Regions from separate parts of the Homo sapiens genome. Here region 2 is linked to region 1. The links come from fine-mapping of genetic effects on gene expression. A gene starts in region 1. The other region holds a variant in brackets. All regions are shown on one strand. Distances are between the middles of the regions. Region 1 holds the start of CSNK1G2-AS1 (CSNK1G2 antisense RNA 1). Region 2 holds the start of DAZAP1 (DAZ associated protein 1).

Evidence for each region. PIP is the estimated chance that this variant, and not a neighbour inherited with it, causes the effect.
Region 2: its variant is fine-mapped to the expression of CSNK1G2-AS1 in unexposed skin (GTEx, PIP above 0.99).

What each region holds. Positions count from the first base shown.
Region 1 is chr19:1,950,996-1,959,307 of GRCh38, reverse strand. It overlaps CSNK1G2-AS1 (CSNK1G2 antisense RNA 1), which reads left to right and starts at 4,759. Exons shown (of 3, transcript NR_033400.1): 1 at 4,759-5,465; 2 at 5,802-5,922; 3 at 6,297-6,781. All of the region lies in intron 1 of CSNK1G2 (casein kinase 1 gamma 2), which reads right to left. RefSeq lists an enhancer at 3,427-4,378.
Region 2 is chr19:1,405,785-1,414,079 of GRCh38, reverse strand. It overlaps DAZAP1 (DAZ associated protein 1), which reads right to left and starts at 6,494. Exons shown (of 12, transcript NM_018959.4): 1 at 6,278-6,494. The coding sequence starts at 6,306. RefSeq lists silencers at 5,591-5,690, 6,071-6,280, 6,421-6,650. The variant G/A (reference allele first, on the strand shown) is at 5,249.

The DNA.
Region 1 (8,312 bases):
TCACAGGCCACTGAGAGGGAGCTGCCAAAACCCTCGTTGAGGACAAGAGACTGGAGGCCACCAACCAAACCTGAAAAGCAAACGTCACCGACTTCACGAGGAAAACAAATCCATCCCTTCTCGCCATGAGGATGAAAATATCCTCTATTAGATGGCACAGACAGAGACACAGCCTCATGATGAGCTAAAGGCACTGAGCTGCATGAGTTACACAGCTAGCGGGTACAGCCCGAGTGTCACACCTCAGTTATTAATACAAAAACCAACTCGCACCCTGGGAGCAGATGGAGATGCAGACTGGGAAGCCACATGGGGAATTTGGGGAAGGGACGCTCAGGACCCAGAGCCAAAGCTCATACCCACACTCAATACCGGCTGCTGTGGCCCTGGACGGGGGTGGGGGGGACGGGGGGAGGGGGGACAGTGCCTGGACGGGGGATGGGGGACGGGGGGAGAGTGCCTGGACGGGGTAACGGAGGACAGTGCCTGGGAGAGCTGGGCTGCTGCGGCCCTGGATGGGGGGACAGGGGGACGGGGGACAGTGCCTGGGAGAGCTGAGCTGCTGCGGCCCTGGATGGGGGGACGAGGGGAGGGGGGACAGTGCCTGAGAGAGCTGAGCTGCTGCAGCCCTGGATGGGGGGACGAGGGGACGGGGGACAGTGCCTAGGAGAGCTGAGCTGCTGCGGCCCTGGACGGGGGGACGGGGGGACAGGGGGACGGGGGACAGTACCTGGGAGAGCTGAGCTGCTGCAGCCCTGGACGGGGGGACGGAGGGACAGGGGACAGTGCCTGGGAGAGCTGAGCTGCTGCGGCCCTGGACGGGGGGATGGGGAGATGGGGGGGACAGGGGAGATGGGGGGACAGGGGACAGTGCCTGGGAGAGCTGAGGCCCTCTAGACACCTAGCAGGAGCCGGGCAGCTCTCCTGCCCTGGTGCACCAACCCCACGGCCCCCACTGCTGAGCCCTGCAAGACGGCCCTGCCGGGCTCCTGTTCCCCTAACATACACACTCGCTGCCCAAAAAGGACGAAGCGAGGCCCAGCGGCCTCTGGGAACCACCGAGAAGGAAGCCGTGCTCTGGACAGACATCAGGGGCACAGGCTTTGGTGGGGGCAGTGGGAGTCCCAATCGCCCCTCAATTCCAGGCAGAGCAGGCAGGTGCCCCATGAGGCTGCGCTGTGCTTCCAACGCCTCCAGACCTGCTCGGGAGGGGCCCCTTACTCAGCCACCGATGTCCCTCAGGTGTCCCATTAGGATGTGGGCAGTGCCGTCGTCAGGACGCGTCCCAACACCCGGCTTCCGGACAAGACAAGCGCACACCTCCAACCCCTCCCTGCACACGGGGGAAGCACGTGGTGACATGAGGCTGGCTCTGCCGTGTGCCCCGCAGCTCCAGGGGGCCCTAAGCAGTGGCCGTGCCACACACACAGTGCCCGCCGAGCGCCCACCCCACATAAACGGCGCCCGCCTAGCTCCCACCCCACAAACACGGCGCCCGCCGAGCACATACCCCCCACACACGGCACCCACCGAGCACACACCCCAGTGTTTCCAGGGGAGATCTGGCAGCTGCTCAAATGCCGCCAGACGCCCTCAGAGGCCCCTCTGTGCCCACGTCTGCAGTCACCCGGGGTCCTGCGCACCCTCCAGTCTCTGCCTGTGTGGTGAGCTGTGAAAGTGGCCTAGCCTGTGGAGCGCGCCCCGGGCGAGGGGACATGGGGGACCTGCAGGGGCAAAGGCATCTGCTCGGCTCCCTCAGTGAGGACAAACATGAAGTGGAGAGAGAGGTGCCTGCGCTCACTGTCCCTCCTAACAGCAAACCCAAGGTCTCCCACAGGCCCGGCCACCCAAGCCGCTCGGGGCAGCCCCCTTCTCTCCCAGGCTGCTCTCTGCTCAGCACTTGGTTTGCACGAGCGCCTGGTGCATCCCGGGACATCTCTCCCCCGGCTCCACTTTCGTCTGTGGTGCCCACGTGACCTCCCGGGCACACACTGCTTCTCATCCTTGCGGGCCTCCAGGCTGGGCAAGGCACCCTCCTGGGCACAGGGCCACTGGCCTGCTCTCCGTGTAGGCTATCCCTCCTGACACGGTGGCCCTCGGGCCTGTGGGGCTGCCTGGAGGGAGGTGGGGCCTGCGTCCAGGTTGCTTTTCTTTCTAGCCGCCCCTGCCTTGCCCTCTCCACAGCCGGGGACCCCAGAGGCCCAATCCCGCCCACCAATCTCCGGGTGGCACCGTTTAAGCCACGCAGCATCAGGGCACGACCGTCGAAGGGGGGCGCCACCACCAGCCTTCCCTCTGCAGAATCCCCTCCTCCTCCCTCCTTCTCTCTTCCAGGTGAGCCATTGGCTTGGTCAGTTCCTTCTGCTGAGAAACCCTGAGTGATGTGTGATTAACTGAATTAACCCATCAACCGCCGCCTGGCCAGGTTCATCGAGGCTGAGCCCTAAATTCCGGAACGAGCCTCCTGGGGCTCTCTGGGGTGTCCTCCTGGCCCGGAGACAGAAGCTTCTGGACGGCTGTCTCACAGCCCCCACGGATGTGGGTATGACCCACGGCCCCGTGTCCCGATGCTGGAGTCTGTAACCGCCACCTCCTTAAACACTCTCCCATCCCCAACACTCAGTCTACCCAGATGGGACTGGACACACCCCACCCAGCCCCTCTGTGGAGGGTCAACACCAACCACTGAAAGGGCCAATGCCGCAGGGTAAGCGCCTGTGCCACAGCCACAGCTGCCGGGTCTGAGTACAGAGTGGCCTTGCCGGCTAGGATGCGTGGTCTTTTGTTTTTTGAGACAGGATCTAGCTCCATCACCCAGGCTGGAGTGCAGTGGCAGGATCTCGGCTCATTACAACCTCCGCCTCCCGAGTTCAAGCAATTTTCCCGCCTCATCCTCCCAGGTAGCTGGGACCACAGGCATGAGGCACCATGCCGTCTGATCTTGGCTCAGCTACATGCGTTCTGGCTTTTGCAGAACAAAAAGCACCAAATCCCCATCCCAGCTGCACCTGCACAGATGACAAGCCCCAACCCCCAGAACCTGTGACGTGAGCGCTGCCCTGCTGGGTCTACCCACTGCTGGGTCTAGGGCCCCACTGCTCCTGGCATCCCCCTGGAAGCCTCCTTGTGCGACCCCCGGCCCCTCGTCTGGGTGGTGACCATCACCTCTCAGGTCCTGGCTCCCGCAGGGCCTCTCGGCACCCCTGCCCCATGACCTGGAGGCAGGAGGATGAGAAAGGGGCAGGCCCTGCACTCAGGGACCCAACGCTGTCGGGAGCTGGGGTGAAGGCCAGCCCGGGCTGTGTGCCGACCCTGCTCCGCCCGGCCAACGAGCAGGCTGCCCCGCTGGCGTCTGTTCTGATACAGTGGTCTTGGCTGTTGTGGCCCAGGCAGGTTGGGGTTGCTACTTTCTCTCTGGCCCCCTGGATGAGCACTGGCCTCCCTGTGCCCGGCCTCAGGGCCGGCCGGGAGCAAACCCCACTGTGCCCTGCAGAGCTGAGCCACACAGATGCACACCCGGCTTTGCAGATGGAGCCCGGAGCCGAGCAGCAGCCTCCTCCGGTGACAGCAGTGGCACGGGGGTCCGCTGAGCACTCCCTGCACCCTCAGGGCTGGATCCCGCCTCCAAGCATCTCACGACAGCCCCTCTGAGGGGGTCGTGGGCGGACAGCAGAGGGAGGGCCCAGCCACACCCACCCTAAGCCTGACATGGACGGAGAAGCCCCTGACCTGGGCGCTGCCCCCGACTCGCGGAGCCTCGCCCAGGCACACGCCCACCCCGCGGAGCCTCACCCTGGCACACGCCCACCCCGCGGAGCCTCGCCTCAGCCTGAGCCTCAGTGGGGGGCGCTGACCCACAGCCGGTGAAGGGCAGCCCAGTGGAAAACGGGAGCACTGCTTGCACACCTGCCGCCCACGGTGGCCGCTAGCCCACATCCCCCACCTCAGGAGTGGCCCCGAGAGTCACCGCCTGCGCCTGAGGCCCTCGCAGCAGCAGCAGCAGCAGCAGGAGGGCAGTCAGAGGACAGGCAGGGCCGCCACCCTGGGCTGTGTTCCGTGGGCACAGGGCGGGTGCCCAGCTCCCCCTGCCCCCACAAACAAGAGCCGCCACTCCAAGACTCAGCAGCTTCCGAGGGCGCAGATCACTCCCTGGAGGCGGTCACCACTCGGTCAGGGCCCAGCACCCGTCCATCACCAAGGAGGAAGAGCCCGGCCTCTTCTGGGGCTCTCCGAACCCCAGGGGGTGCCCAAGGGAAGCCAGACAAGGCCGGGGCCTGGAAGGAAGCGAGGACGTAAAGGCTGGGCACCCACAGTGCCCACGCAGGCCTGGGGGTTGGGGGCCTGCCCTGTTGCCTGAGGGCCACAGCGAAAAGCAACAACCCCAGGGAGGGACGAAGGGACGCTGATCCTCACCCAGCCTCCACCCAACCCACGCAGCCACGATTCCGTCCCAGGGGGCGAGTGCCGGCTCCGGGTCACACGCCAAGGATGGCTCCCGGGCGCCAACGAGGGGATTGCAGCCATCCCACAAGGGGCTGCTCTCTCCCCGTCAGCTCCCATCCCCTTCCCCAGCCCTAGCCTCAGGCTGCTACCTGCCCTGTTCTTTTCGGGGTCCTCCATCTGGTCTGGGCCCAGGGCCAGTTCCCTGGGGAGGGCCCCGGGAGCCCCCTTCTCTGACTGTCTCCACTGAGTGATGTCACAGTCCCTGGGCTGACATCACCACACAGCCCTCAGCCCAGAGCCCAGGGCAAAGCTGAAGGGAGGCCAGGGACCTCACTGGGCTGGGCAGGTGCAGGCCACCGCCGTCCCAGTGCCCTCAGAGGCACCTAGACTCATGTGGACCCGGCCGCAGACCGTTCTGGGCAGCTCTGTCCAGGCCGGCCCTGCCCTCTGACCTGGGGCCGCAGGGGCTGGCCACTGTGGGCTCGGTTCCCTGCCACCCCAATTCATCTGCACCCCAAGGAAAGAAAATGAGGGGTTGCAGCGCCCCAGGACCCAAGAGCCCCCGAACACCAGGGCAGCACATACTTCCAGTGCCAGGGCCACAGCAGAGCGGGGCCAGGCCCAGCCCAGTGACGCAGGGCAGACGGAAGGGCGCCCTCCACAATGGAGGGGCGCAGGAGCTGCCGCGGCCAGGACAAACCAACCTCAGGCTGACCTAGGCCGGTAATGGGTTTAACGCATCAGGTGCAAAAGAGAAACACCCCACAAATCAGGGAGAGGAGGGAAGCCGCCCACCCCATGGGAGGAAGCTGAGGAGTGAACGCCAGGGATGGGCAGGGCCGGTCCTCGGAGCACTGCAGACACCAGACCAAGGGCGACTGTCATCACCACGAGAAGGCCCCGTCCATGGCAGAAGCCAACCTCACCGCGCCGACTGCACCGGAGACGCCCACGAGGACAGCCGGCCTCTGAGAACGCAGCTGAGCCGTCACAGGTCGCCATCAGCAAAGGCAAGAGTCCAGGTAAAGAACACAGGAGGGCCACAGGTGATCGCGGTACAGCGGCCAGGACCGGACCCTGATGCGGGGGGAGGGGGCAAGGCTGCACAATGGCAGCTGGGACCAGACCCTGTTGGGGGGATGTGGGGGACGGCGAGGCTGTGCAGGGACCCCGTCCCACAGGTCAGCCTCGCCCTGGTGATGGCACAGACCACAGGTGAGGGCCACGGGCAGAGCTGACCAGGGAAAAGCTGGCACTCACCCAGCACCGGACACATAAGGCAAACACCACCGGCAGCCTTGGCGGAGGGCACTGTCCCTGCAACTAGTCCACATAGGGGCAATTTTCCCAAAATTCAGATTATGCAAACGGAGGCAAGGCTGCCATGGACTCCAGAGCCTCAGACGCCATCAACAAAAGCAAAGTGGACACATCTGCATCAAATCCATCACAAAGACGGCCTTCCAGACTCCGGGGGAAGTGAGAACACCCCCACCCAGGCCCCCATGGCGCACAGGCCCCCACAGCAACCCTGCGCCACCTCAGCAGCCTCAGCTCTGCTTCCTGCTCCGTGGCCCGGGGGCAGAGCTGACCTGGTCTTGCCAGGGGGGCAGGGGTCCCCGGTCCCAAGTGGTGCCACAGACAGCGGGGGGAACGTGCAGGCAGAGTCAGGCACCCCACCAGGAAAGAAAGCTCCCACGGCAGGTCCCGGGGGCGAGTGGGACCCGGGGTGGCTCCCATCGGAATCCTGCTACATCTGAGAGGACACGGGTCCTTCCAGAAGCGTAACCATGAACGGCCGTGGAAAACCTGGGTGGGCTGCGTTTCTACATTTCCTTTGTTTTTTTTTTCAGACGGAGTCTCGCTCTGCCACCCAGACTGGAGTGCCTTTTCCCCTCATCGTGTGGGAGCCGCCGGGCGACATCCCGCCCCGGTTTCCCTCCACTCGAAGGCAGTCACCTCGGTTGCCAGCTCCTGCCTCTGTGATGATCCCCACGAGGGCTGCAGAGTGAAGGGCACAGCAGGGTTCGGCCTAACTCCCCGGGGAGCCCTAGGCGAGAGGGCTTGGTCCTGGGGAGCTGCCCAGGTCTTCTATATCCCCTGGCCTCCATCCAGTCCCGCACGACTCAGCTCCTGGCCCTGTGCACCGGGCGACGCCTGCTAGGCGCATGACCCTCAGAGTCAGGCCTGTACTCACCTCAGCATCTATCAAGGGCCTTCAAGGATCGGGTTTTTTTAATCATCGTCAAATATATCGTTACTAAAAAGATACGTACACTTTGGGAGGCCGAGGTGGGAAGATCACTTGAGGTCAGGAGTTTGAGACCATCCTGGACAACATGGTGTAACCCCGGTCTCTTCTAAAAATACAAAAATTATCCGGGCATGGTGGCGGACGCCTGTAATCCCAGCTACTCGGGAGGCTGAGGCAGGAGAATCACTTGAACCCGGGAAGTGGAGGCTGCAGTAAGCCAAGATGGCACCACTGCACTCCAGCCTGAGCGACAGAGCAAGACTCTGTCTCAAGAAAAAAAAAAAAAGTTGAGCACGTGGAAGCATCCCGCCCTCCGCCACTCGGGCATCATCAGTGCTCACAGGCCGCAGATGACACACGCTATCGGCGCACTAGCTTCTGCCCCCTGGGCCCTCGTCCAGCCCTGCACCCACTGCCCACTGAGGGGCCAAGGTGTGCTTGCTGTCCTGCAGTGACCATCACGACCCCTTTCACACAGAAGGGTTGGGCTATCCCCGAAAAAGACATGCCAAGTCCTAGCCCCCAGTAAACAGGAACACGGCCTTATGTGGAAATGAGGATGGCCCCAATCTCACCACTTCTCAGCTTAAGGTCCTGTTTCATGATGTTGAGTCAGAAAACAGCAGAGAATGGCCGGGCCCGGTGGCTCTCGCCTGTAATCCCAGCACTTTGGAAGGCCGAGGCGGGTGGATCACGAGGTCAGGAGATCGAGACCATCTTCGCTAACACGGTGAAACCCCGTCTCTACTAAAAATACAAAAAATTAGCCAGCTGTGGTGGCGGGCGCCTGTGGTCCCAGCTGCTCGGGAGGCTGAGGCAAGAGAATGGTGTGAACCCGGGAGGCGGAGCGTGCAGTGAACGGAGATCACACCACTGCACTCCAGCCTGGGCGACACAGTGAGACTCTGTCTCCAAAAAAAAACAGCAGAGAAGAGGAAGGTGGGGAGGGGTGGACTCTCACCGCTTCCTCCCGCCCAGCCTGCACATCCTGAGGGCACCCAAGCATCCCCCATCCTGGCCCATCGGGAGGCTGCACCCCCCAACTGGGACCCCTGTCCGTCATGCACACCACAGCTGGTGCTGCCTCCTCAGGGAGCCCCAGAGGACACAGGCAGCTGGGCCAGCCTCAGGATCTGGCAGGGTCTGAATGGGAAGAAATCAAACGGTCCCAGCAGGCCCCCATCTTTGATTTTTTTTATTTTTTTTTTGAGACGGAGTCTCACTCTGTCGCCCAGGCTGGAGTGCAGTGGTGCGATCTCGGCTCACTGCAAGCTCCGCCTCCCGGGTTCACGCCATTCTCCTGCCTCAGCCTCCCGAGTAGCTGGGACTACAGGCGCCCGCCACCACGCCCGGCTAATTTTTTGTATTTTTTTTAGTAGAGACAGGGTATTTTAGTAGAGCCAGGATGGTCTCAATCTCCTGACCTCGTGATCTGCCCGTCTCGGCCTCCCAAAGTGCTGGGATTACAGGCGTGAGCCACCGTGCCTGGCCATCTTTGATTTTTATAAACCAGCAAACGGTAGAAAGTGTTGCCTCCCCAGGCACACGGCGTCTCCTCTCACCTCCCCTCATTTCAACAGCAGGGGACAGACACAGACCACCCGCCTGGCCAGCT
Region 2 (8,295 bases), 550 kb after region 1:
CAAGCCACTGCACTCCAGCCTGGGCGACAGAGTGAGGGTCCATCTAAACACACACACACACACACACACACACACACACACACACACACAGTTCACTGGGGGTGGGGCAAGAGGCACCACGTGCCAAAGGGTAAAATGTCAGCCAATGGTGAGTCTGGCAGGGCCAAGAGGATATGGGAATTTTTGTAATTTTCCTGTAAGTCAGAAGTTATATATACAATTATGGTATAAAAGACTTTCATTACTGAGAACAAGACAGAATTTCAGTTTCTTTTGAAACAAGTCTCAGTCCTTATGGAATCTGAGACAGCAACAGATAGCTTTCGTTTCACATAGCTGTGTCTGGAGCTCCCCACCGCAGGTGACCCGCCCGCCTCGGCCTCCCAAAGTGCTAGGATGACAGGCGTGAGGCACCGCGCGCGGCCACACTGTGTGTTTCTGTTGAGATATTTGAGAGCAGCTTCTAACGCTAAAGCTTCCTGTGTCCATGTGTCTTTTACTACCACTCAGGAGCCACCGGCGAACACCTTCTCCCTGGTCTACAGACAGAAGCCTCCGGGAAGTCCCGGAAAGCAGGGTCATCTCTTCAGTGGCAGGGACTGCCTCCAGGGCCCTGGCACAAAGTCCCTACTTCTGAATCTCAGGATGTTTTAATCAATAAAATAAGAAAGCTCCTGGCTGCCAACCTCACCAGGTCGTGAGTGAGAAGCCGGCACATCAGAAACATGCGGAGCCCTGGGCAGGCACCTCCCAGACACTGTCCATCAACTGCCCAGGCAGCAGAACCAACTCTCACACAAGTAAACGTCGGAGTCCAGGAAGCCGGGCGCGGGCAGAGGCCAAAAGGAGGAGCTGCTGGCTCTCGTGGGCTTGCTACGGGGCTGGCGGTCCGCTTGTCCTCAGCTCCAGGCTTGCTCAGCCTGCACCTTGGCTGGCGGCGTGTGGACTGAGGACGTTAACGGGGCAAGGCAACACTGGCCTACGCAGATGAAGGGGTCGGTGAGCAATGTGGCTCCTGCACCCTGCCTCTGAGGGGCCCGCTGGGTGGGAGAGTCATCACCCAGCTGACGGCATCTCCGACACTGGAAGTCGTGGCTCCTACAGACCTCACACCCCACAAACCCAAAAGGGGTGTTCTCATTAGTGGGGGAGGCGTGGGACGAGCTCCACTTCTTCCCTTGCAACCTGGAGTCCAGCGTGCAGTCTGCCCATCAAAGGTCATGATGAACATCTCCCAGGATCTGCAAGCCTGGCACCCAGGGCCTGCAGCTCGACACCTGGCAGGTGCTCAATCCACGGTGGCCGGCGCAGCCACCCTCTTCTGCCTGTTAAAGCAAAAGCCGTTTTGGATGGCAACCTCGCTTGCTGCGTGCCATTCGGGTGCCTGTGCGGTATTTATGCGTAAAGTCCATCTGCAGAGGCTTCCTCTGGCCTAGGCTGACCACAAAGAGCCCTGACCTCCTGGCAGCACCAGAGTGGGCTTCAAAAACCGGCGGCCAGCCCGGCCATTCGGGGCCAGCAGCCTCAATGGGGGCAGTTGGCAGGCGACCTTTCCCTTCCTGCTGGGCCGGGGGACCAAGCCAGGAGGAGCCTGCCTCCCCACAGACCCCACCTGGCTCTGGGCTCCGCCAGTCACACTCAGCTCCGTGCACAATCTCAAGAGGCAGAAGTCCAGGCCCAGTGGCGGCTGATGTGTGGGGAACCCTTCTCTTCTTCCAGAGCATCAGGAAGAGCCTCTAGGGACTTTCCTGCCCCTAAGACCAGGTGGGAAACCAGGACCACTTCACCCACTGCCTCAGGCCAGTGAGCCCAGCCCGCCCCTCCATAGCCTGGACTCCCTCTCCCCAGCAGGGTCAGATGCCCCCCCTCCAGCCCACGCCTGCAGGGTGTGGGGTCCACAGAACACAGGAGCGGTCCGTGAACTGGAACGCGCTGCTGTGTGCTGAAGGAGCCCCTGAATGCCCACATCCTGGGTGCTAACTGTGGTCACCCTCATCCTCTCCCTGCCAGCCCCGCCCTCCCAGGCGGACCAGTGTTCTCCTTGGCAACGCCTGGAGCCAAGCTGGAAGCTCAGCCTATAAGCATCTGTCGAATGACTGGCCTCTGCCAAAAGCCCTGTCACAGCTCTCAGGGATTCTGACATCATGACATGGTGTCACGGGGACCAGGCCTGGATGGGAAAAGGCCTCAGTTCACAGAAGACAGCACAACCTCAGATTGACGGGTCGCACCATGAACATAGCCGCCTGACCAGGAGCGCCCTCTGTGCGGGGCGGGCAGTGGAGGAGTGTGGACTCCCAGCTCCGGATCTTCCACCCCCTGGGGTGACCCCGGGCCCATCCCTCAACTCCTCTGTGCCTCAGTCTCTCTGGCAAAGCCAAGGGTTAGAGCCAAGGCTACAAGCACAGCTGGGCACGCTGCGCGCTGCTGCTAGCTCTGGGCCACTGGGGAGCTGCTGTGTGAAGGGCAAGCGCCAGGGTCCATGCTGCTGCCTTTCTAGACACCGGCCTGCTCCAGACCATTGGAGCCAAGGCGAGCCAGTCAGGAGCACATCCACCCTCAAGGCCCATTCACAGGAATCAAAGGAGCCGACACAGGACAAGCCATAAACCACAAGGAGCAGCGGCCCCCAGCGCAGGGGCAACCAGGCCAAAAGCACAGATGCTCCCAGACAGTGGCTCTCCCCCCAGCAGGACACTGGGTGATGTCTGGGAACATTTGTGGTTGTCACGACTGGGGGTACTCCTGACCCGGAGTGAATGGAGGCCAAAGGTGCTGCCCAGCACCCTGCAGTGCCCACGGTGCCCCAGAGTGATCCAGGCCAGAGTGCTGACAGAGCCCAGGAGACCTGCCTCGGAATAACTCCAAATGCACCAAGAGAGCCCCAGAAAGGCCGGCACGGCCCCATGAGGTTCCCTATCACTCCCCGCACTGCAACAGCCTCCCCCAGATCACGGCCCTCTCTGGCCTGACCAACAATCTTGCCAGGTGCCTTGTGCTCACTCTGCACAGGTACAAGTAGTCACGGCCTCTAGGGGCCCAGCCAGGAGCCCCACTCAGGATGTCTCCTTCCACAGCCACCCAATAAACCCAGAGACCTGCCATGGGCCTGGCTCTGAGCTGCATGGCCCCCGGCCACAGTCCTGGGTATCCTCGAAGCTGCCCAGAGGCGGCTTTCTCCTCTCTCCGCTGAGTCCTTCCTCCCTCTGTGACTTTCCTACAATATTTCCAGGTGTCCCTGTCTTACCATTCCCCAGTGTACCAGATAAAATCTTCCATAAACCTCTCTCTCCAGTTCCATGACCGTGTGCTGCCTTGGAAGCCAGCAGAACACAATGGCCTGGGCGCTCGAGGTGACCCCTCTGAGCCTCTGTCCTCTCCCCAGTAGGCCAGGCATGGGCCCTATCCCTGACACCTGGTCTACCACCCAGGCGCCTAGCACCCAGCGGCTACTCAACAGGATGTGGCGACCCCGGCCGCGCTGTGTCAGCTTCCCAGAATCCAAGTCAGAGGCGCTCAAGCCAGACTTTAAGATGACTTCACAAGGCCAGGGAGGGCACACTGGAGACTCGGGCCTTCCTGATCGCGCGTGCTCTGAGCGCTCCAGGCCACCTGCTGGTGCCAACCCTCTAACCCTCCTGACAGGTCAGTGCCTGTCCCCCACCCTTCACAAGAGGACCAGGACAGGCCCCGCTCCCAAAGGAGGACACTGTCCATCACATCCACCATGTAGGGTCCGCGTGCCAAACCCACCAGGATCCAGAGAGGGACTCCCCACACCCCACCACACGTATGCGCTTCCTCCTGCATGAAGCCCCCCTCAAGCTGACTGGAAGTCGGTGTGTGTAAGGCATCCGTTATCACCGGCAGGCCTCAGCTGACTTTCATCCCCCATCAAGCTTTACATGGACTTCTAAGCCAGCACAGGGACCCTCAAAACTTGGGACGACTTCTCAGACTCAAAAGCAGAGCTTCCCCCAAGGATGGCTCCCTAACCCACCTTCCAGGTGTGGATTCCCAGGGCAGCAGCTGGACGGCCACAAGTGTCCCAGAACAGGGGGCTCCCAAGCTCCAAGTCTCCTGAGGCGTTGACCCCGCACCCATGCATGCTCCAGGCCCAGCCCTCCAAGCGGGGTCCGGCGGGATCTCCTGCCTCCTCCATGGCAGTGAGCAGTGAGGGCTCTGCATCAGGAAGAGGGAGCTCCTCAGGCTGCCGAGCCCCCCCAGTGGGTAAGGGACACCGCAGACCCATGGCGTCCTGAGAGCCGCCATCTGCCGCAGAGAGGGCCTGCTTCCATCCAAGCTCAGCACCCTCCTGCATGGCACCCACCGCACCTGCAGGGGACTTGCCAGGAGGGCGCTTCGCAGGGTCACAAGCATTTCACGCACACAACAACTCCACACAGCAAGATCAGAGCAGACCGTGGACTCCGCATAGAATGGAAGCCGGTCTCCCATGCGACGGGCGGCTGTGGCAACACTTCTTGCCCAAGGAGTCTGACTTAGAAAGCAGTGGACACTCCTGGCAGCCGGGGAGGAGAGCAGGGTCCATGCACTCCAGTTCTCCTCCACGCAGCCCGTGGCGTCCGGGTGGCCTGCGAGCCTATTTGTGCTGTGGGTGGGACCCCTCCAGACCCAGGCTGGGACCCCAGCTGCCCCACTTCCCAAGGGTGTCCATGCAGGGAGGGGACAGGAGCCCTCACCTCTCTCCAGCCTCCTCACAGCCACGGCTTGGGTGGAGCGGGCCCACGTTCACCCGCGGCTTGAATGGACCTAATCCAGGTACCCCATCTGGGAGCCCTTTCCCTGCCTCACCCCAAAGTCGATGGCTCCATCCCCCATGGCCGGTGGACTCCCTGCTCAGGCCCATCCCTGCAATGTCCCTCACACAGGCACACGGACCCTGCCAAGTCAAAGTGCCTGGAGAGGACTCACAGCACGGGCTAGGCAGGGGCTAAGTGCTTTCATCCTGGTTCTCCAACGGAAGGTGCTCTTTTGTTTTGTCTGGGGAGGGGGAGAGCCCACAAAAGGCATTTCCCATCCACAAGTGTGACCTGTAGCTGGTGCGAGAGGCGCCTGCCAAGGCAACCCTCTAGCAGCAACCGCTCCCGCACTAGCCAAGCCCAGCGCTGAGAACACAGGGCGCTGCTCAAAGCTAAGGGCACCGAGAAATTTACACCAGACCACTAGGAAACCCAACCCAGACTGTTTTGCCGGAAGAATGCAACTCTAAAACGACGTCGCTGCG[G/A]CAGGAGCCGCTCCTACCAAAGAATGGCGCCGAGCCCTGGGGCACAGCGAAATGAGGTTTCCCGGCCCCGCGGGGTCCGGAGCAGGTCAGGCTCCTATAGGAGGGGACGCCTCGGCGCAGCAAAGATCCGCGGGCCCGTCGCCGCCTCGGAAGCGCTGACTCTCCCTTCCGCAGCTCAAGCCCACCCCCGGCGGGGAGGCGCCGAGGCAACGTAAACACAGCAGGCCCCGGCTGACCCGAGCCCCCTGGGCCCTGGGTTTGCGAACCCCTCCCGACCTTACCACTTTGGGGGGGTGGGATGGGAGCGGGGAGCCCGGAGCCCCGAGTGGGATAGGTTGGGCGGTGGCAGAACCGGAACCCTCGCCTCGGCTCGCCACGTGCGCCGCCCGCCAAGTTTGGGCGCGCGCTGGGGGCGCCCCGGACCACCCCCCACGCCACAGTTTGGGGTCCCCCTGGCCAGGAAGCCGGGAGGCGGCGGCGACGGCGCCCTGGACTCCCCGCAGACTCCCTCAGGTTCTCATTCGGGGTCCCCCAGGCCAGGAAGCCCTACAGGCGGCAACGGGGACGCTCCAGACCCCCCCAAGTTCCCGTTCGGGGCCGCCACAACCAGGAAGCGGCGGCGGGGGCCCCTGAACCCCTCTGGCTCCCATTCGGGGTCCCTCAGGACGCGCAGTCGGGAAGCGGCGGCACGGGCGCCCCAGGACACCCCCCCAGGTTGCCGTTCGGGGTTCCCCCGACCAGGAAGTCTGGAGGCGGCGGCGGGGCCCCCCGGACCCCTCAGGCTCTCCTTCAGGATCCCCCAGGACGGGAAGCCGGGAAGCGGCGGCGGGGGCGCCAGGACCCCCCCAGACCCCGGGCACCCGTCCAGGGCCCCCGGCGCGAAGCCGCGGCGAGTCCGGGTCCCGAGTCCGCCCCCGGCCGGCGTGACCTTGACGGGGCGGCCCCGGGGGGCGGCGTCTGAGGCCGGGCGGCGGGGAGCGGCGGGCCGGGCTCGGGGCGGAGACGCAGGCCCGCGCCGCTCGTCCTCACCCGATCTCGTCGGCGCCCGAGTTGTTCATGGCGGCGGCGGCGGCGACGCTCGGCGCTCCCGGGCCTCCTCGCTCGCTCCCGCCTCCGGAAGGTCACCCGCTCCGTCGCCCTCCCCACAGCCGCGGCCCGGATCTGCGCAACGGCGGCGGCGGCGGCGGCGGCGGCGGCGGCGGCGGCGGCGGCTGCCTCCTCCCCTCGGCGCCAACGGTCACCGCGCGTCCCCGCGCCGCCGCGCCGCCGCCCCTGCGCACGCCCGGGCGCGCTCCCGCACGGGGTCTCCGGGGGCGGGTCCAGGGGTACTCCGTCTGTGCGTGCGTCCCTGAGGCGGATTTCGCGCCGCCGCAGTCGGGGCCGTCGCGCGTTTTCCTTTCTCCTCGGAGGCTCCTGGCGTTGCCGCGGGGCACGCTGGGAAATGGAGTCCCTGCGCTGGCCCCGCCCCTGCAAGGGGAGGATGCGCGCGGGCCGAGCCACGTGCGTGCGTGCGCGCGCGTGCGGGCTTGCGTGCGCGTGCGCGCTTGCGAGACCGGCGCTCCGGGCTAGGCACTGTGGGCGCAGGCGCGGCTGCCGCTTCCTCTTTAACTCTTCACTCGGAAGCGGTGGAGCCGCGTGGGGCGCTGCGGGGAGTGGGAGTGTACCCGCCCGCACCCCAGGCGGGCGGACGGAGCGGGAACGGCACGTGAGCGTCCCGCGCGAGGCTCCTTCCCCTGTCCGCATTTCACAGAAGAGGATCCCGAGGGTCCGAGAGGCTGAGTCACTTGGCCAAGGTCACCCAGTTCGGGGCTGAACTGGAATCAAATCAAAACAATTAACTAAATTCAATGACTATGAAAAGATATTATTGACCCCCCCCCCAAGTGCTATTACTATTAATAGCCAAATACTGTTTTAGTTGCATCTGTTAATTGCATACATCAGTGGTTCTTCTTCTGGGTGACTTTGCCCCCTAGGGGATAACTTGGCAATGTCTGAAAACACGGTTTTGGTTGTCACAACTTGAGTGCGGGGTGCTGCTGGCATCGAGTGGGTCCAGACCAGACATGCCGCTCAGCACCCTGCAGTGCACACGACGACCCCCCAAAAAGAATGATACCCGTCCTCCAATGTCAGCAGAAGGAGGTGGAAAAACCGGTCTAGGCTGACGGTAGTAAACAGGTGACCCGCAGGGTTTTGTAAAACCGGGTACGTGCTGCCTACTGCTTTTCTCCTTAATCTCACAGCACATTGACAGCCTGATCGTTTGGTTTATTCATCATCACAGAATTAAATAAATACAAGGAACAAGGCCGGGTGAGGTGGCGCACGCCTATAATCCCAACACTTTGGGAGGCCGAGGATCAATTTAGGTCAGGAGATCGAGACCAGCCTAGCCAACATATATAGTGAAACCCCGTCTCTACTAAAAATACAAAAGAAAATTAGCCGGGCGTGGTGGTGGGCGCCTGTAATCCCAGCTACTCGGGAAGCTAAGGCCGGAGAAATGCTTGAAGGCAGGAAGTAGAGGTTGCAGTGAGCCGAGATCGCGCCACTGCACACCAACCTGGGCAACAGAGCAAGACTCCCTCTTAGAAAAAAAAGGGCCGAGCATGGTGGCTCACTCCTGGAATCCCAGCAGTTTGGGAGGCCAAGGTGGGCGGATCACGAGGTCAGGAGATCGAGACCATCCTGGCTAACATGGTGAAACCCCGTCTCTACTAAAAGTACAAAAAATTAGCTCGGCATGGTGGCAGGCGCCTGTAGTCCCAGCTACTCAGGAGGCTGAGGCAGTAGAATTGCTTGAACCCAGGAGGCAGAGCTTGCAGTGAGCCGAGATCGTGCCACTACACTCCAGCCTGGGCGACACGGCAAGACTCTGTCTCAAAAAAAAAAAATACAAGGAACAAGATCACAGACAAATAGTACAAAACACTTTTTTTTCTTTTATTTTGAGACAGGCTCTCACTCTGTTGCCCAAGCTGGAGTGCAATGATGCAGTCATAGCTCACTGCAGCCTTGAACTCCTGGACTCCAGCTATCCTCCC